7 linked regions of the Homo sapiens genome follow. The protein of the gene in region 5 purifies or fractionates together with the protein of the main gene of each other region. This does not show direct contact. Each region holds a gene or a part of one and is shown on either strand. Other genes may lie near its edges. The genes, in order: NDUFAF2, MTARC1, TJAP1, PLEKHG1, CHST15, DIPK1A and SLC43A3.

The links.
Region 1: the proteins of CHST15 (region 5) and NDUFAF2 purify together in Homo sapiens (affinity purification with mass spectrometry; one large-scale study listed by BioGRID and IntAct). This does not show direct contact.
Region 2: the proteins of CHST15 (region 5) and MTARC1 purify together in Homo sapiens (affinity purification with mass spectrometry; one large-scale study listed by BioGRID and IntAct). This does not show direct contact.
Region 3: the proteins of CHST15 (region 5) and TJAP1 purify together in Homo sapiens (affinity purification with mass spectrometry; one large-scale study listed by BioGRID and IntAct). This does not show direct contact.
Region 4: the proteins of CHST15 (region 5) and PLEKHG1 purify together in Homo sapiens (affinity purification with mass spectrometry; one large-scale study listed by BioGRID and IntAct). This does not show direct contact.
Region 6: the proteins of CHST15 (region 5) and DIPK1A purify together in Homo sapiens (affinity purification with mass spectrometry; one large-scale study listed by BioGRID and IntAct). This does not show direct contact.
Region 7: the proteins of CHST15 (region 5) and SLC43A3 purify together in Homo sapiens (affinity purification with mass spectrometry, with the first as the bait; one large-scale study listed by BioGRID). This does not show direct contact.

What each region holds. Positions count from the first base shown.
Region 1 is NC_000005.10:60,951,705-60,955,204, forward strand, and holds part of NDUFAF2 (NADH dehydrogenase [ubiquinone] 1 alpha subcomplex assembly factor 2), read left to right. Parts: intron 1-3,500. UniProt on the Homo sapiens protein: Acts as a molecular chaperone for mitochondrial complex I assembly. Complex I functions in the transfer of electrons from NADH to the respiratory chain. The immediate electron acceptor for the enzyme is believed to be ubiquinone.
Region 2 is NC_000001.11:220,796,913-220,800,412, reverse strand, and holds part of MTARC1 (mitochondrial amidoxime-reducing component 1 precursor), read right to left. Parts: intron 2,540-3,500; coding exon 2,399-2,539; coding exon of another isoform or gene 2,348-2,398; intron 2,262-2,347; exon of another isoform or gene 2,138-2,261; intron 1,582-2,137; exon of another isoform or gene 1,224-1,581; intron 1-1,223. UniProt on the Homo sapiens protein: Catalyzes the reduction of N-oxygenated molecules, acting as a counterpart of cytochrome P450 and flavin-containing monooxygenases in metabolic cycles.
Region 3 is NC_000006.12:43,498,070-43,501,569, reverse strand, and holds part of TJAP1 (tight junction-associated protein 1), read right to left. Parts: intron 2,648-3,500; exon of another isoform or gene 2,593-2,647; 5' UTR 2,569-2,592; coding exon 2,470-2,568; exon of another isoform or gene 2,434-2,469; intron 827-2,433; coding exon 798-826; intron 45-797; coding exon 1-44. UniProt on the Homo sapiens protein: Plays a role in regulating the structure of the Golgi apparatus.
Region 4 is NC_000006.12:150,598,479-150,602,684, reverse strand, and holds the start of PLEKHG1 (pleckstrin homology domain-containing family G member 1), read right to left. Parts: upstream 2,801-4,206; 5' UTR 2,690-2,800; coding exon of another isoform or gene 2,668-2,689; intron 1-2,667.
Region 5 is NC_000010.11:124,007,168-124,010,383, forward strand, and holds the end of CHST15 (carbohydrate sulfotransferase 15), read right to left. Parts: exon of another isoform or gene 3,173-3,216; coding exon 2,982-3,172; 3' UTR 501-2,981; downstream 1-500. UniProt on the Homo sapiens protein: Sulfotransferase that transfers sulfate from 3'-phosphoadenosine 5'-phosphosulfate (PAPS) to the C-6 hydroxyl group of the GalNAc 4-sulfate residue of chondroitin sulfate A and forms chondroitin sulfate E containing GlcA-GalNAc(4,6-SO(4)) repeating units.
Region 6 is NC_000001.11:92,954,963-92,958,462, forward strand, and holds part of DIPK1A (divergent protein kinase domain 1A), read right to left. Parts: intron 1-3,500.
Region 7 is NC_000011.10:57,413,622-57,417,121, forward strand, and holds part of SLC43A3 (equilibrative nucleobase transporter 1), read right to left. Parts: intron 3,050-3,500; coding exon 2,952-3,049; intron 1,486-2,951; coding exon 1,312-1,485; intron 1,111-1,311; coding exon 994-1,110; intron 1-993. UniProt on the Homo sapiens protein: Sodium-independent purine-selective nucleobase transporter which mediates the equilibrative transport of extracellular purine nucleobases such as adenine, guanine and hypoxanthine.

The sequences.
Region 1 (3,500 bases), on a different chromosome or scaffold from region 5:
ATAAAGTGAGTTAAATTTTGTTTCCTTCTTTTGAATTTTCTGGAAGCGTTTGTGAAGAATTTGTATTACTTATTTCTTACATGTTGGATATAAATTGCCTGTGAAGCCATCTGGTCCTGGAGTTTTCCTTGTTGGAAGGCTGGAATTAAAAATTCAAAGATAATAAATTTTTAACCTACAAATTTAATATCTTTGGCAGGTATAAGACTACTCAGGCTATCTATTTTGTCTTAGGTGAGTTTTGGTAGTTTTTATCTTTTGAGTAGTTTGCCCTTTTTATCTAGTATGTTGAATTTACAGTCATAAAGTTGTAATACCTCTTCATTATCTTTTTAATGTTTGTACAATTTGTAGTGATATCCTCTCTTTCCTGAATTGATAATTTGTGGCTATTGTTTTCTTGGCCTATCTGATGAGTGGTTTGTTAATTTTATTGATCATTTTAGAGAATTAGCTTTGAGTTTCACTGATTTTTCTCTGTAAGTTTTTTCCATTGGTTTCAGAACTTATCGCTTTCTCTTATATCGTCATCGTTTTCTTCTGCTTTCAATTGGTTTTATATGTTCTTCTAGTTTCTTAAGGTGGCCACTGAGATCATAATTTGATCTGTTTATTTTTTAATATACATTTTTAATGTTAAAATTTCTTGTAGGCACTGTTTTGGCCACATTTCACAAATTTTTATCTTAAAATTTTCATGTAACGAATATATTTTCTTATTTATTTTTTCCTATATGACCTATGTATTTATTTAGAAGTATGTTCTTTACAAATATTTGGAGATTTTCTAGATGGAGATTTTCATTGACTTCTAGTTTAATTCTATTATATTCAGAGAACATATTTTATATGATTTCAGTTATTTTAAATGTATTGTAAATTGTTTTATGGCCTAGAGTATGGTGCAATTTGGTAAATCTTCTGTTTGTGCTTGAGAAAAATGTATTATCTATTTTGCTATTTGGGGTTGAATGTTCTGTAAATGTCAGTTAGCCCAAGCTGGTTGATAGAGTTGTTCAAGCTTTGTATATTCACACTGATTTTTTTTGTACTTATTCTATCAATTATTGAAAAAAGTATGTTACAGTCTCTGAATACAAGTTTACATTTGTCTTTTACTCTTTCCAGTTCTATCAGTTTTTGCTTCATGTATTTTCAATACCTATTGTTAGGTCCTTACACATTTATAATTGAAAGATAATAATACAAATTACCCAAAATAAAACACAGAGAGAAAAAAGACCAGAAAAAAAAGAGCAATTAGCAAGCTGTGGGATACCCCCAAGTGGCCTAATATATGTAATTGGATACCATGAGGGGTAAAGGTCATTTTGCAGGTCAAAAATATTTGAAGAAATAATGGCCAAAAATATTCCAAATTTGATGAAAACTATAAACCCACAGACCCCAAATCATCAACAAATTCCAAAAACAAAAAGTGTAGAAAACCACACCAAGGCATATTATTATCAAATTGCTCAAAGCCATTGATAAAGAGAAAATCTTTATAGAGCTAGAGAAAAAGATACATTACTTACAGAGGAAGAAAGACGAAAATGAGTTCAGGGTTTTTTTTAAAACAAACAATATAAGCTGGAAGACAGTGGAACAATATCTTTAAAGTACCAAAAGAGAAAGTCTGCCAACCTATAATTTTGTACACAACAAAAATACCTTGTTAAAACAAAGGCAAATGAAGGTTTTTTCAGACATACTGTACCTGAAAGAATTCATTACACAGAGACCATAATTCCCTTTCCTCTTCCCTCTACTGGATATCTTATTCCCTGGATTCTGGGCCTTTCACCACAGTTTTGTAGCATATATGCTTCAGTAGCCTCCTGAGAAGAGGTTCAAGGCGGATAAAGTTTTTGAGTCTTTGAATGTCTGAAAAGATTTTTATTCTGTCCTCATTTGGTTGATGTATTTGTTGGGTGTAGTTTCTACTGCAGTCATAGTGAGTAAATGTCTAGAGAAAAGCAAGCAGTAAATTCTATACGAGCTTAAAAGGAGTAGCCTATGAATTGAGGAAGAGTATATGCATAATGTAGGCTTTGGTAAATGTTTTTAATGTAACCTAATGCTATGGTTTACTGTATTTATGAATATATATTTTAAAATGCATGATTACATTGAATAACAGTGTTTTGGCTTTAATAGTAAAGCTTTTTTTCAAATTTAGTCGGTATAAAATTATTTGAGATAGTCACACATACTTTGTATGTGCCCTATTGACAACAACCAAAGGAATTTCTCCTTTCCATGCAAATGAGGAACACATAGACACAGATGTAAATGTTCTAAATCATTATTTCTAGTGATATAAGTTAGGATTGTTTTACTGGAAGATTGTGGTGCTTTTTGAGTGTTGGCTGTGTATTTTAGACAAAGTAGCTGGTAACTAGGACTAGTTCCAGCTTTACAGGTCACCATGATACCCATATCCATGTCTCTGGTCCCAAGTCATTAGCTGTAAGATAGCCAAAGACCTATGATGTGGCTAGGTGTGAGAATTCTGCCCCATATAGGCATTCTGTATAGGTTGGTAACAGACCAAACATGGTCAAATTTTTTTCTGTTGAAATTTGAACTCATAGATATATAGAGAGAGGAAAATATGAGAATAATTAGGGATCAGTAGATGTCCATTTCTAAGAAGTTAGGGTGGCAAGCATGTTGAAAGGTTCCTATTAGAGCACAATAGGTATTGTTGTGTCCTAAATCACATTCCAGTTGTCTCTATTTTGCAAATGTTGAGTTTTTCGTCTTTCTTCCTGTATCTTTACAGTATTCCCTGGTTACCTGAGATAACTTGAGCGTAACTGTTCTTTGAAATCTGAGACTAGCTAACATATATACTATGTACTAGATTTTAGAAAATTTTAGGTATCTGAAAATACAACTTTTTCCTTTCATGTGTTAATTTTGTCTCTTAGAAATTCTTCCTGTTAAATATCAAGGAACTCATGACCTCAAGTGATCTGCCCGCCTCAGCCTCCCAAAGTGCTAGGATTACAGGCATGAGCCACCGTGCTCTGCTGTCCTTTTTTTTTTTTTTAAATAGTAGCCATCCTAACAAGTATAAGGTGATAGCTTATTGTGGTTTTAACTTGATTTCCTTGTTGGCTAGTGATATTGAGAACCTTTTCATATACTTGTTGGCTATTTTGTATGTTTTCTTTGGAGAAATGCCTGTTAGTTCCTTTGCCCATTTTAAAATCAATTTATTTGGTTTTTTGCTATTAAGTCATAGAAGTCACTGATACATTTTGGTTTTTAATCATTTATGAGATATGGTTTGCAAATATTTGTCCTATTCCATAGGTTGCCTTTGTATCCTTTGCTTTGCAGAAGTATTTTGGTTTGACGTAATCAGACTTATCTATTTTTGCTTTTGTTGTTTTGTGCTTTTGGTGTCATATCCAAGAAATCATTGCCAAAGCCAATGTCAAGAAGCTTTTTCCCTGTTTTCTTCTAAGAGTTTTGTAGTTTAAGGACTT
Region 2 (3,500 bases), on a different chromosome or scaffold from region 5:
ATCTGACCACACTGAGCTCCTTAGGAGAAGCAAGTGCATTTCTTCAACCCTTGTTCTCATGTGTCTATTCACAGCGCATGCCACACAGGGGCAGCAACCCACTCGATGATGGGTGAATTACTAAAAACAAGGCCGGCTCAGCCACCATTGTGTTACCGCCCAGCTTCACATACAGAATGTTCTCAACTAGGGAACACTCAGAGATAGAGAGAGAGATACGGGTTTTTAGAGTAAGACTCAATTGAAAGAAATCTCCGAGATCTGAAGTTCTACTCTGGGCCATCTCCTCTTCTCCTGTCATCCGAATCTTACTGTCACAGAATTTTGGGGTGGAAATGGCTTCAGCATGACCCTCGGTGCACAAATCACACAGGGGAGAAAGAAAGCTTAAAGTCGATCATAGGGAAAAAGCTGGTACCTGAGCCAAACTCCCAGGAATGAAACTCTTCCTTACCTCCCTGTGGTACTTAATGTCCTAGAACTTTTCCACAAATTGTCATCGACCTTGATTCTCACAGCTCCCATCAGGCGAGGGAGTCATTGAAACTGCCCGTGTTTTACAACTGCAAGAAGCAGATGCCTCGGCGAGTTTGGTGACCTGTCCAGGCTTGTACGGTCACTTGCGGAAGCAGGTGGATTAGAATCCAGCTGTCCCAGCCCCATACATATGCCCTAGAATTCTCAGGGTTCCTCTGGCCTTGTACAATTGGGGTTCAAAACCCAGCCCCTCCTTGCTGTGGTATAGCCTAGGGCAGGCCACCTCACCTCCCCAAGCCTCTCTCTTCTCTCCTGTAAGATAGGAATGATAGCTTTATCCCGCTGGGCTGCCGTGAGGCATAGAAGAGACAACATACTTAAGCGCAACACAAGTATTCATTCAAAACCCTCCCCACTCATTTCTCTTTTCCTGAGAAGGAACGTTCTCAGGAGAAATGGCTCTCCTAGCCATAGCTGGTGGAAGATGAATATCAAGGAGATGGTCAAAGGCAACCAAACACTGATTATTTTCCTGTTGTCTAAGTCAGGCTGGCCCATGGTGCACAGGAGCAGGACAGGCAGAAATTTCTTGTCACAAAGAAGCACTGAGAGATGCCCAACCCAGGACCTTGGGGGACATGCACACAGTCCACCCGCCTCACACTAGGAAGTTCTCCACCATCTTTAGAAGAAACGCTACCCTTGGAAGTTTGGAGCAATGAGTATTTTATATGAAGCATTAGCAGTGGATTTGGGCGTACTTTTATTATCCTCCATCGATTGATATTGCTTTTATACATCTCATAAATTACATTATCCAAACTGACCCTTCAACAGACCCTTAAGGTAACCCTAGGCAGAAATATGATCATCTCATTGTTCAGGCAAGGTAAATGGGACTTAGCGGGGCTGCTCAAAGTCATGCAGAAGCCAGTGCAGAAGCTGAAACCAGCCGTCACATCTTCTGGTTTGAATGTGGGAATCAAATTCTTAGATTATTTCTCTTTCAGCATAGTTTTGCCTCCGTACAGCAAAAGTGAAGAATATAATTGGCTCCTCTGAGGATAAAAGGTTAAAACTCAATTGCTTTGATTCCATTTTTCCCTGTTATGGAGGAAATGGGCAGACGTAAGAACCACTATATGGTCCCCTTTACCTCTCCCTTCTCAACATAAATTTGAGGCACAACCAGAGCTCCTGAATTCCTAGCTGTGGGTCAGGGTTTCTGTTGAGTATCCACAGCTGGTGGCCACTCACCATGCCTCTAGGCCACCAACCTCTGCCTTCATGGAAGCCCAGGGAGAGAATCAAGTTAAATAGCCAAAGGCCATTTATTACAAAGGTAAATTTGCTGCCAGAATCCTGTGGAATCCCAGAAACCAAGCCTCAGGGCTGTTCAAGCTAAGTCACCACGCAAACATCTGAGGGCAGATGGAAGGTGGCACTGCAAGCATTTCAGGGTAGTGCCATGAAGCTTAGGGGCAACAACCTCTCCCAACCCTCACCCAGCAGCCTTGCAGTAAATGCCTGTCTTCTCCAAGAGAGCCGTCTACTAAACAGTAAGACCATCCTTTAACAAGACAGGAGCACACACTTTCTTTGTTCCATGGCCCACACAGATCATGTAGTCTATGCAAGAAAATGTGACTCAACAACGAACCTGTCAACTCAGAATTCTCCTTAGAAGCCTTAGATACTGAACTGCCTCCTTGATGACAGTCTCTGACCCATCAACATTTGTATCCTCCACACAGAAGTCTGCACTTATTAAGTGCTGAATAAATCTAAAAATCAAATTGTTATGTATTACAGAGTTGATAAATAATGCACCCTTCAGAATAATCTAATCCAATGTCAAAGACTCTCATACCTTAAAAAAGAAGTCAAATCCAAGGAAAGATCCAAAGGGGCATAGTGTTACCTCTGCATAGACATCGCATCCTGAAATTACAATATTGGGCCTGAAGTTGGTTGCTTTAACTTTCTTCTCTAGCCTGGAGTTGAGATCCGCCAGCGACGCCTCAGAAAGGATCAAGAATGGGCTGGTGTCTGAGTAAGCAATCTGATAAGGAAATAGACATTGTTATAACACATGGCACACCAACTTTTCAGTGGTTAGGTGTGCCTAGTTCCTAGACATAGCCTCCATGCTCCACCCCACCCCACACACAATCTTTCAAAGTAGTTCTCTTGTTCTTTTAATAGAAGTCACAGTGACTCAGAAGTTTTCAATAGCCTTGCAGATAGCAGAAACTGCATGGTGGAATGAAGGGAACAAGGACTCAGAATCAATCCTAAGCTGCCACAAGGCATGTGCCCTTGGGGACATCACTGAACCTTTCTAAGCCTCCCATTTCTCAAATGTTTAATAAGGTGGTTGAGTTTGATGACCTCATTATGTTTGATTTAAATGTTCACTAATTCCATGAATACTTATTTTATGCAACTTACAAATTAATATTTATGTTGACCATAATTTATGCATTTGCTTGTTTCTTTATTTATATATTTTGAGACAGAGACTCCTTGTCACCTGGGCTGTAGTGCAATGGTGCCATCACAGATCACTGCAGCCTCAACTCTCTGGACTCAAGCAATCCTCCCACCTCAGCCTCCTTAGCAGTAAGGACTACAGCATAATTTATTTTTTTTATGGCCATGGTAAAAGCAGTATATGGTACTACAAACCCTGCTTTTATGATGAATCCTTAGAGCTTTATGCCATTAAGGCTGATCATTTGAGTCTGTGTATCTCCATACCCATGCCAACTTGCACAATTGGAATCTGACATACAACTGCAAACTGTAAAAATTCTGGACTCCATGTGCAATTACAGAATGGAATGAAAAAAAGACACTGGTGCAGAACAGTTTTGAAACCCTACTGGCATCAGAATGCTTACACAAATAGGAAGGTAGATGCTCAAGGGCAAAAATTCAAGAGTCCCCCAAACAAAGAAACAAACAATGCTTCCAAGGGAAGGGCTTTATTTCTGCCTACTGCTTGTGATCTGAGCTACCAG
Region 3 (3,500 bases), on a different chromosome or scaffold from region 5:
AGGCCAGGCGCCGGCGAAGCTCTTCATTCTCCTCCTGTAAGAGCCTGGCAGGGTGTTGTGGGATCAAGGGCAGAGGGGTATGAGAGATAGAAGGGCATGCCCTGGAGCTCCAGAGTGGGCTCAGGAAGGAAGGGATGACATGAGGACAGGCAAACAGGACAGGGAAACTCCTGGAGTCTTAGTCTGAGTCTAAGGCAGCATATTTCATAGGCCTGCTGGCCCTGGGAACACAGCCTGGGTTGGAGGGTCAGGGGAGGAAGAGGGGATGGTAGGGGACAGTCCAGCCTCCCTTCACTATCGGAGAATAGAAATAAAGAATTGGGGGTAGGGATATGGCTCCCAGCCTGTCTCTGGTTACAGCCCATGTCAGCTGGCCACCAAGCCCCCAGCTCCAGTTTCCCCACTGCACAATCAGGCTTCTCCATTATTCATCTCTTGGAAATCCAGCCCAGCACTGCCCTCCTCTCCAGAGGCCTCATGTGGCTAAAGGGCTGTAAGGGTGGCAGCTGGTACAGGAGCCAGGAGCTGGGGAAGGGCTCCTTAGCAAGAAGAGCAGGGCCCTCAGAGCCATTCGCCTCCTGATTCTACGCTCTCTTGAAGCCCATGGAACAATAAAATCCCATTTTCCAGAAAAAATATCCACAACATCAACACTCCTCCCAGAGTCCCTAAAACAACCCATCCCAACCTTTATTTCTACCTAATCCAAGGGAAAGTCCAACTGTACCAACAGTCTAGCCTGGAGCTAAGAGGGACAGAGTTGAGGCAGGGCAGTATCTCAGGTAGCAGATACTCACTTCATCCTTTCTGCATCAGTCAGGGGTTCCTAGGCAAAAAAGAGAGGCTTGAGGCTCAGCTCTGGACCACTGGACCCCCGGCTGGCTCACCCTCCAAATAGCCACAAGAAGGCTCAGGTGTGAAGCCCAAAGACTCTTATAGCAGAAGAGGGCTGCAGGGCTCTCTACGGATGGAAGCAATTCAGTAATGCTGGGACAAGCCTCGACTACCCTCTCCCATGCCAACCAGAAGATTCAAGAACCTCTTCCAACCTTCACCCTTAATCCAATCCTAAAGCCATTTTCAAATAAGTCCTGGCACCCAAGCTACCTCTCCCCAGGGGCAGACAGCCTCTCAGCTGTTCACTCGGCTCCTGGTGGGTCCTGTATCCACAGAGGTATGGCAGAGACCTTCCAGAAAAGTCAGGCTGAACTATACACACGAGTTCTGAGCTCTGACAAAGCCCTCAGCCTTGAGATGAAGACAAAGGCAGAATCAGGCTCTTGCAGAGGCTCAGGAAGAACAAGTGCATGGGAGAAGAGGACTAATCCTGACTAAGGGGAGGAAGTGCCTTGTCTGTCTTTTAACCTCCTGCCCCATCTTCCCCAAACCCCTATGGCAGTCATGGCTCAAGAGTCAAGTTCAGCCAACCACAAAGCAGAGTAGGCCCCTGCTATCGCGAGAGGGAAACATCAAGGGGCCTATTCTATGTGGAACTGACTGCTTCAGAAGAGCAGCCTCTGGCAGAAAATGGAGGTAGGTGGCTTCCTTTGTCCATTGACTCTGACAACTGGATTTCACCCTATTCTACTGCATACTGATTATACAGCCTTCACCTCACCGAGCCTTAGTTCCCTCATTTATAAAACTGAGGTAATGCTCGCTGGGTAGCACCTAGCATAATAGCTGGCATCTTAATTTAATGTTCCCTGAACTGAAATGAGCAAGTCATGGCTTTTCTACCTTGAATCTGACCAAAGCAGGCTACAGTATGCCTGATGCTCAGCACATGCTGCGTCTCAGGTTCTTTAAATGTGCTCCACGCACTGTGACCAGATGGAGATATGGCTGCAAGGGCAGTAAACCACTGTGGCCCTCGTTTCTGCCTGTGAGTGAAGTTAATGGGGCAGGAGAGCCAATGTTTTGCAGCTGACTATAGGCCCCGAAGAGCAGAGTCCGGACCTAACAGTTCCTGGCAGGGAGTACATATTCAACAAATGTTAGCCAAACAAAGCAAAGCTGGAGGAAGGGCTGGACTTCCTGGGGACAATGAAGAGCAGCTGTGCTGGTGGGAAGTGGCTGTAGCACTGCCTCCTGATATGCCCCAAAGGGGCCACAGGTTGAATGGCTCTACTCCACTACGGAGGACCAGAGTCCCAACCACTAGCAGATTAGGACCCCTCAGTCTACTGGGCTGCCTCTTGCAGGGAGAATATCATATGGGATCATTTCTGCTAAGCTACAAAGACTCAGGGGTTCCCTGACATGTGGACATATACTCACAGACAGTCCCCCTTGAGCCTACATTACCCCCACCTGCACTACTGCGGCTAGGAGACCTCAGGCCTGCAACAGCAAGGCCCACTCTCACCCCAACTCAGGACCAGAAGCTCAGGCAGGAGAAGTCAGCCAGACACCCAGCCTCAGGGGCCTTGCCTCTGCCGGTCAGGCTGTGATACCAGTCTTGCTGACCTCCTGCTCAAGCCGGGATCCAGGAATTTCCAAACGCAGCTCCCGATGCTCTGGTGGTGCCTTACGGTAGGGTTTCTTAGCAGGGGCGGCACTAGTCATTCTGGGAGGTGACGGCTCCTCCGCCTGCTGAGAAGCAAGAAGGAGGCAGGCTCAGAGATGTGGCCAGAAGGACTCTGGACTGAGAAAAAACAAAGATGGTGAAAGGGGACATATGTTGAGGCCACCACATAGGCTGACAGGCCTGGGCCATTACTGGAGTCACTAGAGGGGCAGGACTTAGGTGTGTCAGTCCCCATAGGTCAAAGGAGTGCTGGAGGGTGGGGCATGGGTCCAACGGGGAACAGATGGGTGGGAAAGGCAGGGCCTAGGGCCTGAACACCTAGGTTCTAAGAGTGGGACAGGGAGCTTCAAAGCAGCCCACCACCCTCCTTACCACTCTCCTTTGTGGGCTCTGAAGGCCTCAGAAGGTAAAACTGCTCTCTATGCATTAGTTTTCTCAACTCTAAATTAGCGATAAAACAGCATCAATTTCTTTTTTTCTTTTCTTTTTTGAGACAGGGTCTTGCTCTGTTGCCCAGGCTGGAGTGTAGTGGCGCAATCTTGGCTCACTGCAGCCTCGACCTCCTGGGCTCAAGTAATCCTCCTGCCTCAGCCTTCTGTGTAGCTCGGACCACAAGCATGTGCCACTGCACCTGGCTATTTTTTGTACACAGCGTCTCACTTTGTTGCCCAGGCTCAAACTCTCAAGCTCAAGCAATCCCTCTGTCTTGGCCTTCCAAAGTGCTGGGATTATAGGTGTGAGCTACTGATTCCAGTTAAGAATAGCACCAATTCATAGGGTTGTTGGGAAGATGATGTAAAACACTTAGGAAATGTTGAATAAATGTTAGTTTAAAAAAAATCATAACCAAAAATGTGAGTTTGGGGATACAATCCAGGATCCCCAGTGGGAGTCTCAAGGCCCAAGAGAGCTCTCTGGCCTCAGCCACTGATGACCAAACCCCTGTGGCCTCCACCACTCTTTTCACCAG
Region 4 (4,206 bases), on a different chromosome or scaffold from region 5:
TTATCAACAACAATCATCTTCAAAGCACACCATATGTGCCAAACACTGATACGAATCATTTCATTTAATCCTTGGCATAACTTGAGACAAGGGCGGAGAAGAAAGGAGGAAAGGTGTGAAAATGAGGAAAGGTGAGAAAACCGAGAGACACCAACTATGATTTTTACTTTTCCTGGTTATGAAATAATCCATATCTAAGTAATTTCCTTAAAGAAGTGAAGGTCTCAAAGCTACAGAGACGTAGATGTGAGCATCACACAAGTAGGCTAATTCTAGATCACTGGATCTTAACCAGACTTCCTAAATCTTTAAGATGTAGGGCTGGACTAGGTCATCCAAGAGCCCTTCTGGGTTTAATATTCCAGGGACCTAATCATGCTGCAGGAGGATTAAAAGATGACAACTGCTTGAAAGACCAACCACCAGCAATGAAAGGAGTGGAGAGGAAAAGAAATCTGCAAAAAAGTGAACGGCCGCCATTAAGATAATAGCTTCAGGAATTGCTTTTGGTTGACGAAGGGCTCAAGAGATTTAGTGCTACTCAAGCATTTCCCATATTTATGGGACAGACTATGAACCATTCGATCTTAATTAAATCACTGAAAAATCATATCCGCAAAGGGGGAACACAACATAGGACTGGTTATTCTTGGTTTTGAAAAATTATGTTGCCACTTCCTATTGTTTTAAAAATGATCATTTAACTTCTTTGAACTACAGCCTGAATCCCCCACTGAAATATTTAAGCCTGTATTCGGTGACAGTCACCTATATTAAAGGCATTGAAGGAAGCTGGTGCCCCTAATTCAGGGTGCCCATTTAGAGTAGGGGAAGCAGGAAAATGCCACCAAGGACGAGCAGAATCGGGGCAGTTATCTGGCATCTGATTGCCAGGTAACTGTTTCTCACTTTGCTTTGCCCTTTAGCAGAGGACTTGGGGGGCTGCTACACAAGGATGGGGAAGGTCGTGCAGCCATTGCTGTTGACTGTGGACTGCTACTGATGACCTATTTGAGGATGAAGCCAGGGAGGTGGGAGCACTCTGAAGAAAAAAGTTTCTTTAGTCAGGTGGTTTGGTGGCTTAGAATTGGGACCTCAAATGAGACAAAAAGTCAAGTCAGGAATTGGGAAGCCAGACTCAAAATGCTGAGAGAGTCAAACATCAACCCGTTACTTTTCTCTCTGTCTTAAATATTGTAGACCAAATTACAGGGGGTAGGGGTTTGGGAGGGGGATGAGGAATGAGCAGGAGGCCGTAGAAGCTATCTGGTTCGTGTGCACTGCTTTATAAGGGAGGCAGCCAAGACGACCAGAGGCAAGTATCTTGCCCAGGGTCCCACAGGGCAAAATTAAAGTTCGAAAATTTTCTGATCTCCTGAAATGATGGGCTTGGAAATGTTTTTAACAGCAATTTAATCAAAATCCAAAATCTCTACATTTTTTAGAAGTATGCTGTCTACAGAATCTGAGAATCCAGAAGATGCCGGTTTTAACACCTGGTTGTTATTGTACCGCATTACAGGACCTACCCAAGCCCGGAATTCTGTTAGATGACAAACTGGACCCTAGAGTTAACATTCTAGTCTTTCCCCCGGTCTAAATACAAAACACAATATAGTTCTGTATCCAATCTGTTCAAAACTCCTAAACCAACTCTCAGTCTGAGATGGTCCTCGCGGGGTGATACCTGCCCCAAACACCCACACTCGGTGATTTCGAAAATACGTGCAGTAGCCTCGGCCACCTGCGGGTGGTACAAAGGGCGCCTTGAGGACCAGAGCTGGATGAAACGCCGGCTTACAAACCCCGCTCCGCCAGCACATTCAAGTCAAGGATCCAGCTCATTGTTTCCGAGGAGCGGAATGAATTGACCAGCCGAGCGCCGTTCTCCCAGTTAGAGCGTTCCCAAGCTTCCGGCTTCGGAACGGGGCTCACCGCGAGGACACAAAAGGGGCGAGCTCGGGCATCACTGCGGTTCCCCGCCGCCCGCCGAGGCCAGAACGCTCGCAGAGTCGCGGCCGCCCAGGTGTTACCGTTTACCCCGTGACGGAAGAGCCACAGGCTCTTGACTCCCCACCCCCTGAAAAGCGCATCTGCAGAACGGGGGCGCCCCCAAGCCCTGAGCGCCGCAGCAGCTCGGCCGCCGCCCCCACCGCGCGTCCCCGGGTCCTCGGGCTCCCGGCTTCGCTGCTGGGGAGCTGACCCAGCTGACTGGCTGTGGGGTCCCGTTCTGGGGCTGTCCTGCTGAGTCGGGGGTGGGGAAGCGGTGGCTACAACTCCCGGGTGCTCGCAGAAACTCCTCTGCGCGCTGATGTTGCAGCCGCTGGGGCGAGGGGCGGGAGCACCGGGAACTTGGGGGCGCGGAACCCCAAGCGGGGCGGCGGCGGGCAGCATCCCCGACCCGACTCCGACCCCCGAGACGCGGCGCCCCCCAGCGCCCTCCGTCCCCACCGCGCGGTGCCCCCGGCGCCCTCTGTCCCCACCGCTCGGCGCCCCCCAAGGCCCTCCGTCCCCACTGCGGAGGGGCGCGCAGGGGGCCGGCGGGGCCCGGGTACCACGCTCCGCCCGGCCCCACCTGCGGATGTGGGGCTCCCGCCGGAGGTCCCCGGGTCCCCCCTCCCATCCCTGGAAAAGTCCCCAGGGCGTCCGGGCCCGACCGGCGCTTACCCGGGGAGGGACGGCTTCGCATGCCCGGGCGGCGCTCGCAGGTCGGGCGGGGAGGGTGCGGGCTGCGCTGCGCCGGCTCGGGCTGCCGGAGCGCCCTGCAGCCGCCGTCGGGCTCGGGCTCGGGCTCAGGCTCGGGCTCCGACTTCCTCTTCCTCGGGCTCGGCCCCACTGCTCGGCCGCGCCCCGGCCCGCCCCTCCCCGCGCCCAGACGCCAGCTTCGGCGGCCGGAGCAGTGGATCGCTCGTCCCGCCTCCCCTCTGCCCTGAGGGTGAAAAAGGTGGAGAGGAGGGGGGCGAAGAGAAAGAGAAATTAGGCACTTGGCCTTGTCTCTGGAGCCTTGCCAAAGAGAACAGTCAAATTACAGCTTCGGGGGGAATAAAGTTTTTTTTTTTTTTAATTCTGCTACTGTTTTCGCAGACACATCACTTTTTTTCATTTTCCTAGCTCTTCAGGTTTAGCTTTCCTTTGGACGTAATAATTTCCTATGTGAGTCCTTTAAAATAATACCCAAAATCATGGTTTTAGTGAACATTCTAGTTTTACATAGAAGCTTTGCCGGTAATCAAGTGAAAAGAGGGGGAAGCCCGGTGTTCTTCAGGCGTCATTACCCTAATCACCTCGGTTAAAGCACCAAACGACCTTTGCCTAGAGAAAGTAAAAGTGGAAACGGAGGTAAAGAATAACCGGTGACAGCCAGAGAGATGTTTAAAGGCACCGGCTCTGCAGTAAAGTTATGACTCCAATCAAAGGTGCCTGCAGCGACAGTTAAAGGCATGTGAAGTCATTTCTTAACACTAATCTCCCGCCAAAGTCGGACGTATCAGGGTCGCCTGTGGACCCCCTTAGGTTTGGTGGTGGATTTGATTGCACTCTTAGTTGTTAACAGACCTTCAGCCTTACCACTTGCTAGCTGTGTGGCCTTGAGAGAACGCTTTAACCTCTCTGTGTTCTGTCTGTTTCCTCATCTGTAAAATGGAGATGATGATGATGATGATGATGATAGTGCCTACCTCATAGAGTTGCTGTATGTGATTTAAATAAGAGAATGTGCGTGAAGGGCTTAGGAGACTGTCTGGCACATGCTCTACAGCCTGAATAAATGTTAGCTATTCTTGTTGATTTTTGCCTTTTATCTGCTTTTATGCATATACATGATTATGGAAATTATCATAAAGACTGGGAACAAAACAAGGTTTGTGCAGTAAGGCTACACAGCATCACAGTTCTCTACCACGTGGAGTTTATGTTCTGTTTTATAATTTGAGTCTCCACAACTGACTTGTATTACCTAAAACTATGGGACTGGGTTATGCTTGGAATACATTTACCACGGTAGATTTGCAATGGGACTAAAACAGACATTTGCCATCTTCAAAGCATTGTTTCAGTTGGCCTTGCGATAACCTTGTGAGGTTGACAGGACAGGTGCTAGTCGCCTTTCACAGACAGGAAACTGAGCTTAATTAAGACCCTGCCCAGCTTCTGGAGCTCACACAAAATCATGCCTGTTACCCCATCTCTCTATGTTGTGATTTGTGT
Region 5 (3,216 bases):
TGCAGCACCTTGATCTCGGGTCTCTGGCCTCCAGACTGAGAAAATCAGTTTCCGTTGTTTGTGGTCTTTTGTCCTGGCTGCCCCACCTGAGTGCACACCACACCTCCTTCTGCGGGCTTGCCCTCAGCAATAAGGACATGTGCCAGAGACACCAGGGGTCTCAAACTCACAGCTGCCAGGGGCCAGGCAGGCCACCGGAATGAGGCCTGTGGTCACTTAACCTTCAAATTTGAAGGTCTGAAGACAACGCTAGGCCTGACTGTGGCTGGGCCAGACCTCCCACCCTGACTCACACCCCAACAGGACTCGCACAGGGAGTCCCTGCTAACATCTGAATCCTTTTCTCTCTGGTCTTGAGTTTTCTTCTGCCTGTTGCTCGCACAATCACACCTCGTCTCTCAGCAGCCAGCACAGCTGTAACTCCTCTTTACACAGAGCCTGCACAACTCGAGCAGGTGCGACACTAAACCACTGCGATTCACTCATGCACCAGGAAGAGCTTGGCTGCAGAGGAAGAGCACGCGCTCCACAGGCGTCACTCTTATGGGTCCATCTTTAATTATGTTAAATATTAATAAAAGTACAGCGTAACTGCGATTCACTTAACATACCTTACAGGACTAAGGGAGTACAATTTAACACGGTCACAACTTTTGAGAACAAAAAGGAACTTCAATACCATGTTGTGAGAAATGCTCCAATTTGCTTTGGTTTTGAATGGCAGGCTCGAGAACCACCGCCCAGAACGGAACCTATTCTGTCAGCAAGAGCCGGGCCTCGAATGAGAGGAAGCAGAGGCAGCCGAAGTGCCCTCTGGAGAGAAAGGCCCCTGGAGGGAAAAACCATGTCTGGATGGCATTGAGTGGCACAGAAGGGATGGGACTGCATATATAAAAAAGATCCGCATAATAAACCAAATAATATTGGAAATAATACCTTCAGTAATACTTCTGTAAGAAGCAGAATTACACCACATGTTATTCACATGCATAGGAGTGCATAAGAAAAATCCCTTGTTGTAATTATGGTTGGTGTGGAATAGTAAAATATGTACTGAAAATGACAAGTTAATTGGCAGAGAAATTAATCTATAAAAGGGTTGTGTCCAGAGCGGAGGAGCCTCATTAGCAACTGAACAGAACCCACTCAGAAGACGCACTCACCCACACGTGCGCGTACACACACACACACGCGCGCACTGTACTGCAAATAAATATACACACACACTGAAGTGATCTCTCCCTAAAGCATCCTTGTGCTCAGGCCAGATTTCCCTGCTGGCGGCTGCTCCCAGTGCCGGCTATAGAGAAGGTGGGGACTGTCCCTGCAAGTGGGAGTTCAGGACACACGCTCCTTCAGTAGCAAAAACAGCCCTGGCCATCCTGGCGCTCAGAGCCCTCTGCACACCTTCGAACGGGCTGTGTGTCCCTTCTCTGATGGCAGAAAGACAACACCAGCAGAAAGACGGCTGAACAACTGCAGATCCTCCTACCCCCGAAGCCTGGTCTGTCTCACACATACAAGTTAGAGCTGGGTAGACGGGTGCTTGCACTTTCTGGCTTTGGTGGGCGAGACCTTGGCCTGAGAACTTTGGTTCACAGGAAGCTTCCCTTGACAATACTTGAGTGCAAAGCTTCATCCAGGTCCCACCTGGGCTGTTGCCAAGGATGCTCAAGCGTTCTCTTCAATCTTCCCTGTGACTTCCAAGAAACGACAAGATCTCTAGCCCATCCATCGGTAAACCAAGCTGCCAAGTGGCCTGGAAAATTCCATGAAGAACACGGCTCTTAGAAACCTCATTCCAAATCTCAACACGCCACGTTCAGCCCAAGTTCAGCTTGTGCATTGTGTTTTGGAATTGGGACACGAGTATCTATAGTCCCTTGCTGGGTGAGGAACTTTGACCACACGCAGTGGAGAATGTGGAAATAAACTATTTCCAATGGGAAGGCAGAGAAATGGAGCCTGTAGCCGGCCAGAACTAAAAATTAAAATCCTCTGTTTCTCTGATGATCTTGTAAACCTGATGAGGGCTTGAATTACCTAGATTTTCCAAGAAGTGTTCAATTCCTTGAGGTTGCTCATTCTGGCATTAACAGCAAAAATTTCTCTTCCAATTATAAACTGAAGTTCTTGAGAAAACGTATGAAGAGGCAGCAGAGAGAGAGCCAGGACTGGTTAAATGCAGAAAGTGGTTTTGTTTTAAACGCATTCATTTTCTATGTTAAACATAAGTCCACAAGGACAGAATAGGAGGAGGTCAGAAAGATGAAGGTGCTGCCAAAAACTGACTTATTTTTTTCCTTTTGGAAACAGTGACGTTAACAGGGTTTACATCTGAAGAAACTGGAGGGCTGAGTTTGGAGTAAAGGAGAAAAAAAAAATGAAGAGCCTCCATTCTCGAAAGACTGCGGTTCTCTGTCCCAGTGAGGTTAGCGATCGCAACAAGAGTGTTTCAGAAGTGAATGTGGTATGATCACACCTGTGAAGATAGCCATTGAATACAGACAGTCTGTGCAACACGGCGAGACCCCATCTCTAGGGGGAAAAAAAGGGAACGTGAAGTGTAAGTTCCAGCCAGGCCTGTGGCATGACCTCTGGCTTGCTGACTCAGAACCCAGAGGCTCTCCAGAAGGCGGAGGCGGGCAGGGCCAGGCTGCCTTCCCTAGGTGTTCTCTCCACACCCAGTGCAGGCCAGCTGGCTGCATCCCCAAGCTCCAGGACGCTCAGAGCAGAGCTGAATTCTTGAGAAACTGGGGTCTCCAATGGCCTCGGATAGAGGAGCTCTGTGAGGGGTCCATTGCTGAGCTCTCGAACATCACGAAGGAAATTCCAAAATGGTTATAATTCATGTGTGCCTAGAGTGGCAGAGTCCTGGGGTTTTCCATACCATGAGTGAAACAGTTCCCCGCAAAGAGATTTGTAAAATCCTGATGATGACGGCATTGGCGGGCCCAGCACGTGCAGCAACAATTCAGCTCTCACGTCGTCTTCCACGCAAACGCCTCATCCGCGAGGACCTGCGCCAGCCTAGCGTTGAAGGGCCTGTAGAAATCCCGCAGAATCTTCTGTGTGATGGGCCACATGGGCCCCAGGTTCCGGTCCTCGGGACGCCGTGCATTGGATGCGGGGCTCTTGGTCATCAAAGCCTCCTGCTTCTCACTTAAGGGCCCTAGAATAAAAGAAGACGAGTCCCGTAAGGCAGGAGGCATGGCA
Region 6 (3,500 bases), on a different chromosome or scaffold from region 5:
AAACTGTGGTACACCCAGACAACGAAATATTATTCAGCGTTAAAAAGAAATGAGCTATTAAGCCATGAAAAGCCATAGAGGAGACGTAAATGCATATTACTAAGTGAAAGAAGCCTATTTGAAAAGGCTACCTAAAATACTACGTGATTCCAACTAGATGACATTTTAGAAAAAGGCAAAACTATGGAGACAATAAAGACCAGTGGCTTTTGGGGGCTCAGTGGGGACAGAAGGATAAATAAGCAGAGCACAGATTTTTAAGGCAGTGAAACTACACTCTATACAATAATGATGGATACATGTCATTATGCATTTATCCAAACACACTGAATGTACAACACAAAGAATGAACTCTAATGTAAAACTATGGACTTTGGGTGATAATACGTCAGTGTAAGTTCATTAACTGTAAAACATGTACCATTATGTGGGGGATGTTAAATATAGGGGAGGGGGCTGGGCACGGTGGCTCACGCCTGTAATCCCAGCACTTTGGGAGGCCAAGGCAGGCAGATCACGAGGTCAGGAGATCGAGACCATCCTGGCTAACACAGTGAAGCCCCGTCTCTGCTAAAAACACAAAAAATTAGCCAGGAGTGGTGGCGGGCACCTGTAGTCCCAGCTACTTGGGAGGCTGAGGCAGGAGAATGGCATGAACCTGGGAGGCAAAGCTTGCAGTGAGCTGAGATCGCACCACTGCACTACAGCCTGGGTGACAGAGTGAGACTCTGTCTCAAAAAAAAAAAAAAAGAAAAGAAAAGAAAGAAAAAAGAAAAAAAAATGAAAATAGGGGAGGGGCCAGGCACAGTGGTTAATTCCTATAATTCCAGCACTTTGGGAGGCCAAGGCAGGAGGATCACTTGAGCCCAAGAATTCAAGACCAGCCTGGGCAATGCAGTGGGACCACTGTCTCTTAAAAAAATATTTAAATTAGCTGGACTTGGTGGGATGTGCCTGTAGCTACTCAGGAGGCTGAAGCAGTAGGATCACTTGAGTATGGGAGGTAGAGGCTGCAGTGAGCCATGATTGTGTCACTGAACTCCAGCCTGGGTGACAGAGGGAGATCCTGTATCAAGAAGAGAAAAGAAAAGAAGAAAAGGGGAAAAAAAAGAAAAGAAAAGGAGGGAGGCTATTCATGTGTCAGGACAAGGGGTATATGGGAAATCTCTCTGCATTCCTCTCAATTTTGCTGTGAACTTAAAATGGCTCTAAAAACTTTTAAATCTTTAACTTAAAAAAAAAATCTGAGGCACTGAGAAGACTACAGTGAAGAAACACTTTTACTGTATGGTCCAGTTTGAAAGAAATGTGGTAAGGATGCAATCTGCCTGAGAATTCACCATTTCTTTGAGCTTCTAACAAAGGTTCAAAAGCAACTAATGGTAATATCAAGTGGCTCTCTGTACACATACCAGTCTCAGAAAGCTAATCATAGTTCTGGAGATTAAATTTCAGGCAAAGGCAAAAGCTAATCTCTGAACAGCAGGTCTAATAAAGTTAATGAGAACTATACAAACTACAGATCTTCTCCCTCTATTGTCTTTGGAGGATAGAGAACAACCATAGGCTCTAATTATCCTTAGATTTAAAATAATCCTGGAGACTGAAAATGGGCAAAAAGCCCATTTTTACTACAGTATTTGGCAACATTACTACTATTACCAATTAATCTGTATCAGTAACCCTGTCTGGCACTAAATCTCACAAAATATCCACATTAACTCATAAGGAACCAAACCATCCACAGCAGTCATGTTTGAAAAATTGTACTAATACGAGCCAAAGTGCCAGGTATCAGAAATGTTAAACAAGTGCAAACACCCTAGCTAGAACATGCCATCTACCCATTCACTCATAACAACCCTACTGAACACATACTGAAATTGCTAGGGCAGTCATTTTCAAGAGGATACTTCTAAAACTTTAAGCCCCTTACAAGCAAAACGGCTTGAAAACCTTCAAAGGACCCAAGTACATGGGACTTCAAATTCCATTAGAACTGCACCAACTTTTCATATGCAACAGAACACATAGGCAGAATGATTGGAATGGAAAATGTGTATAATCTAAGTACAGAGAATTATGCTGAATTGTCTTGACTTTCATTCTTTCAGGACTTAACGATGGTGAGAAGGAAGAAGGTATTTTAAACCAAAACCAACAAATTATAGGGTTGCTGTGTTATCAGCTTCACTCAGACTATGAGTAAACCCTAAACAAAGTAGATCTTAGTTTGTAGAAAACACACTGCTAAAAAAAGACAAATGCAGGTGTCATTCTGGGTTATCACACCCAAGCAGGCCACAAGTAGTATGCACCATAATGGCACGTGGAAGAAAATACTGCCTAAAAATGGTTTAAGCAGTTAATACATCCACAGTTTCTGATCTCAGAGGCAGGATTCTACTCTGTTCAATGTGCTGCATCATTTAGCCAGTCCAGGAAGTGTTATTTCCCAAGTAATGTTTCAACAAAATATCTGGAAAACATGGAACTGTAAATTAGCTTGCTTGCTCTGGGCAAGATGCCTTGCCATGAGAAGCTTGTTGCTCAGGTAAACGTCTGTTGGCCCTTCCAGGCAGGTCACAAGTCCTTCTAGCCCACAGAGAGGCTGCACAGACTAACAGTGTGCCTGCCCAGCTCCCCTGGAAGAAGTGCTCCCTGCACCAAAAAGCTGACCTTGGTGGAATCTGCAGCAAAAGGCAGAGAGAAGAAGGACGACTTTCATGAGATAAACTCGGTTCATTTATTTTTCAACTGTTTTATGGAGATATACTAATAATTCACATATCCTACAATTTATTCATTTAAAGCATAACGTTCAGTAGGTTTTAGTATATTCACATACTTGGGCAACCATCACCACTATCAATTTTAGAACATTTCTGTCCCCCTCAAGAACACTTCATATCCATCAGTAGTTACTCCCCATTTCCCCCCAGGCAACCACTAATCTATCTTTTTGTCTTTATAGATTTGCCCATTCTGGACATCTCATATGAATGAAATAATACGTGATCTTTTGTGACTAGTTTCATATATTTAATGTTTTTAAGGTTCATCCATGTTACAGTGTGTATCAGAACTTCATTTCACTTTATTGCTGAATAATATTCTGTTGTATGCATATACCACACAAGTTCTTTTCTTCACAGGCAGTAGAATCTCTTCTGCTATATAAGCAAAGCTATAAACAGTGAATAGGTGCCTGCATTAGCTCATGAATGTCTATTATGGCTGAAAATATATCATTAATTGTGTAATGCCACAGTTTTCCAAAAGCGTTACCAAATGCCACAGTGATATCTGGATTAATAAAAATACTGAGAATGAAGTTCCTTTACAAGTAAGCTGACTGCTTAAAAGTTTTCTCCTGTACACTGCAGAAAAAAGGGAACTCACAGCTCCTAAGGCCTGAACACCTCAGGACATAACTGGTCTTTGACCCCATCCAGTTAAAGACAAACAGCATAACTGCAAGTATACAAAGCTGGTCTCTG
Region 7 (3,500 bases), on a different chromosome or scaffold from region 5:
CCCTCCTGACCCAGCAGGTTAAAATACCTCAGCATACCTCTACTCCTCCAACCAGGTCCAAGGATCAGGCCAAAACTCCCTGATGTGGTAAACAGCCTGACCCCTTCTTACCTCTCTCTCTCCAGCCACTTCCCTAAGATTCCCCAGTGCTCTGTGCCCTAGCCAGCCCGACTCATCTGCCCAGATTCCTCAATGTTTCACTCTCTCATTCACCATTTTGACCCCACTGTGCTCCTGGGCCACTCTCCAAGGCCCCGCCTCTTCATCTCCTCCCTCCTTACTCATCCTTCAGGTCTTGGCTTAGGTGCCATTCCCTCCAGGAAGCCTTCCCTGACACCAATCCCATCCTCACCTAGAACAGATTATGTGCGCTTCTTTGTGCCCCCCATGGCCCCCTGTGGGTTTGCTTCACGGATTATAACTGCCTGACTACCTGCCTTTCTCCACCCTCTAGACTGAGAACACCTTGAGAAAAAGAACACATCTATCTTGTCTGTCATTGAATCCCTGGTGTCTGGCACCATGGCTGACACATAACTATCACTCAGTGACTAGTGTTTTAATGAATGAATGAGTGCAACTAGACAGGGTTAAGAACAAAAGAGAAGACCAGGCATGGTGCTTCACGCCTGTTATCCCAGCATTTTGGGAGGCTGAGGCGGGCAGATCACCCGAGGTCAGGAGTTCAAGACCAGCCTGACATGGTGAAACCCCGTCTCTACTAAAAAGACAAAAATTAGTGGGGGATGGTGGCACACGCCTGTAATCCCAGCTACTTGGGAGGCTGAGGCAGGAGAATCTCTTGAACCCAGGAGGTGCAGGCTGCAATGATCTGAGATCACACCACTGCACTCCAGCCTGGGCAACAGAGTAAGACTCTATCACAAAAAAAAAAAAAAAAAAAAAAAAAAGAGCGAGAGAAGATGTCATGGGGTAAATGAAGACCTCCCTTCCTGGTTCCCTGACCAGCCCCTGCCCTCCCCCGCATCTCACCTGTCTTTCTTGCTTCCTTCTGGTACTTCTGTTTAAGCCGGTCCATGAGCAGGCCATTCCAGGGGGCACACAGCACTCCGAACTGAGTGAAGGCAAAGGCATTTGTGTAGGTGCTGACTGCAGAAGGAAGAGAGAGGTTGGTTGATGAGAAGTTTCCAAAACTCCCTTCCAGGCAGGGACTCTCCCACCTTACCCTTGTCTGCATGTCCCTCCTCCCCACACCATCAGACCCTCCTCTGGTGTGTACAGCCCTGCTGGGAGGCTCTGTGTTCCCAGCTGGGACATGCAGATGGGCTACCTCCCAGCCCTACCACATACCTCGTGCCATGTCCCCACCGGCCATGTTGGTCAGCAAGGAGTTGAGAGTGCCAATGAAGAGGTAGTGCCACAACTGTATCACAGACAGCCACACCAGGTGCCAGGCAAAGCGCCGAGAGAAAGCGTAGCTCCAGAAGGAGCGGAGTTCCTGCTTCTGCCCTGCCCCTGGGGTCTCTAATGGGGAGAGGAGGATCTGGGCGTGAATTACGAGGAAAGTGGACAGGTAGGATGGGGAGTGTGGAGGCTTCAATGGAACATTTCAGATCCGGGCCCACCTTCTACCCTTGGCTCCCAGAACTCACCCGGCGTGCTCTGCACCTGCCTCGGACTCACACATCCCCACCTCCCTGCTTTGTCATGCTGGCCCTACCACCTTGGATGACCCTCTGTGTTCTTCTCTATTGAAATCCGATCTGTCTCTCACAGCCTGGTCAATGACACTTCTTGCAGTAATACCTTCCTGATCTTTCTCAGCGAGAAAGGTGAAAGGAACGACAAGGAGAGGAGAAAGTCAGAAGGGAGAGGAGAATGAGTGTGGATACTCTGTTCTAACCTGCTCCTCAGCACCTCCCTTTCTTTTGATACCAGTATCCTGAGTTTCTTTGGGAAATCTTCCTCTACCCTAATCTTCATGGTCCAGATGGGACCATGAATTCAGTGTTCTGTTCCTCTCTCAAGGTTAACCAATGAGATGGTTCCTCCTAACAAGGCAGACCGGCCATGAGTTTAGATTAGGATGGACTTAATCTAAAATAGGTCCTACACCCTGGCAAGTTCAATGTCCTCCCTTGATTTTGGAAGCTTCCCAGAACCCTATTCTTCTTTCTTTAAAATAAATAAATAAATACATGTTTTGGATCCAATTGTCAGATGGTAAAAATAAAAACAAAAAAATCAATTTTATTCTGTATATTTAAGATATACAATATGAGGTCATAGGATACATATAGCTACTAAGATGGTTACTACAGTTAAGCAAATTAACATATCCATCATCTCACATTTCTACCTGTTTTGTGACAAGAGCAGTTAAAATCTACTTGTTTAGGAAAGTCCCAAACACAATGCAGTTTGATGACCTACAGTCTTCGTGCTGTGCATTAGATCTCTAGGCCTGTTCATCCTGCTCATCTGCTCCTTTTTGTCCTTCGACCTGCATCTCCCATCTCCTCTCCCACCCCGTTCTTATTTCTACTGTAGCTAGCTGCGGTTTGTGATGTGTGTAACCAAAGACGCAGAACAGAGAGGAAGGAAAGGAAGCAGTGATAGAGTTGGGACAATAAGAGAGGGCGGACCCAGGAGACCTGGAGAAATGGGGGCACTGTACCAGACTTAGTGCAATGGCATCACAGAAGAGGGCAGAACCGAGGAGTGGGGGGAAGGGAAGGCAACCCATGGCAGGCGGGCTTCAAGGGGTGGGGAAGTGATAGGATGCGAAATAGAGAAAAGAGGGACAGAAAAGAGACGAAAGCCCTGGACCCTCCATTAAGTGAGAGGGTTGGGAAGATGCCTAAGGCCCTTTTTCTGTCCTGCCTTTCCTGATTCTGGGTCCCTGGGGGAGCTCTGGAGGTGAGGGGCCAGGAAAGGCACAAGGAGAGGCTTGGGTCTGGAGGAGAGATGGGTTAGCCAGCAGGGCTCACCTTCCTTCGCTGAAAGGAACTCCTTTGACTGTAGCTCCCTGTTTTCATGCTCAGCTGTTTCCTTCTCTTCCTTTGTGGTGCCATTCCCAGGGCACAGGCTATGGAAACAAAAGCCCCACCAGCAAGGCCAAGGACTGTGAGCCGAACCTGAGACTCAGACTGGAGGGAATAGCATGGTGAATCCCACATTCCACCGCACTTTGGAATCACCTTTTAGCCACTCTGATGCCCAGGTTGCAGACCAGACCAGTTAAATCAGAATGTCTGGAGGTGAGAGCCAGGCTTCCTTTTCTAAGATCTCTATGTGAATCTAGTGATTCTAATAAGCAGCAAAGTTTAGGAAGCATGAAAAGAGTAGGGCAGGCCCAGGTTCAAATCCCAGCTCTGCCTCTTCCTAGCAACAGAAAGATGGCTCAGACTTAACCCTTCTGAGCCTCATTTTTTGCATTTAGAAAATGGAGATAAGGATATCTCAGAGGATTATTGTGAGGATGAAATCAGAGAGCACATGGGGTCTGACAATTAGTAAGTGAGCAGCAAAGGAATGCC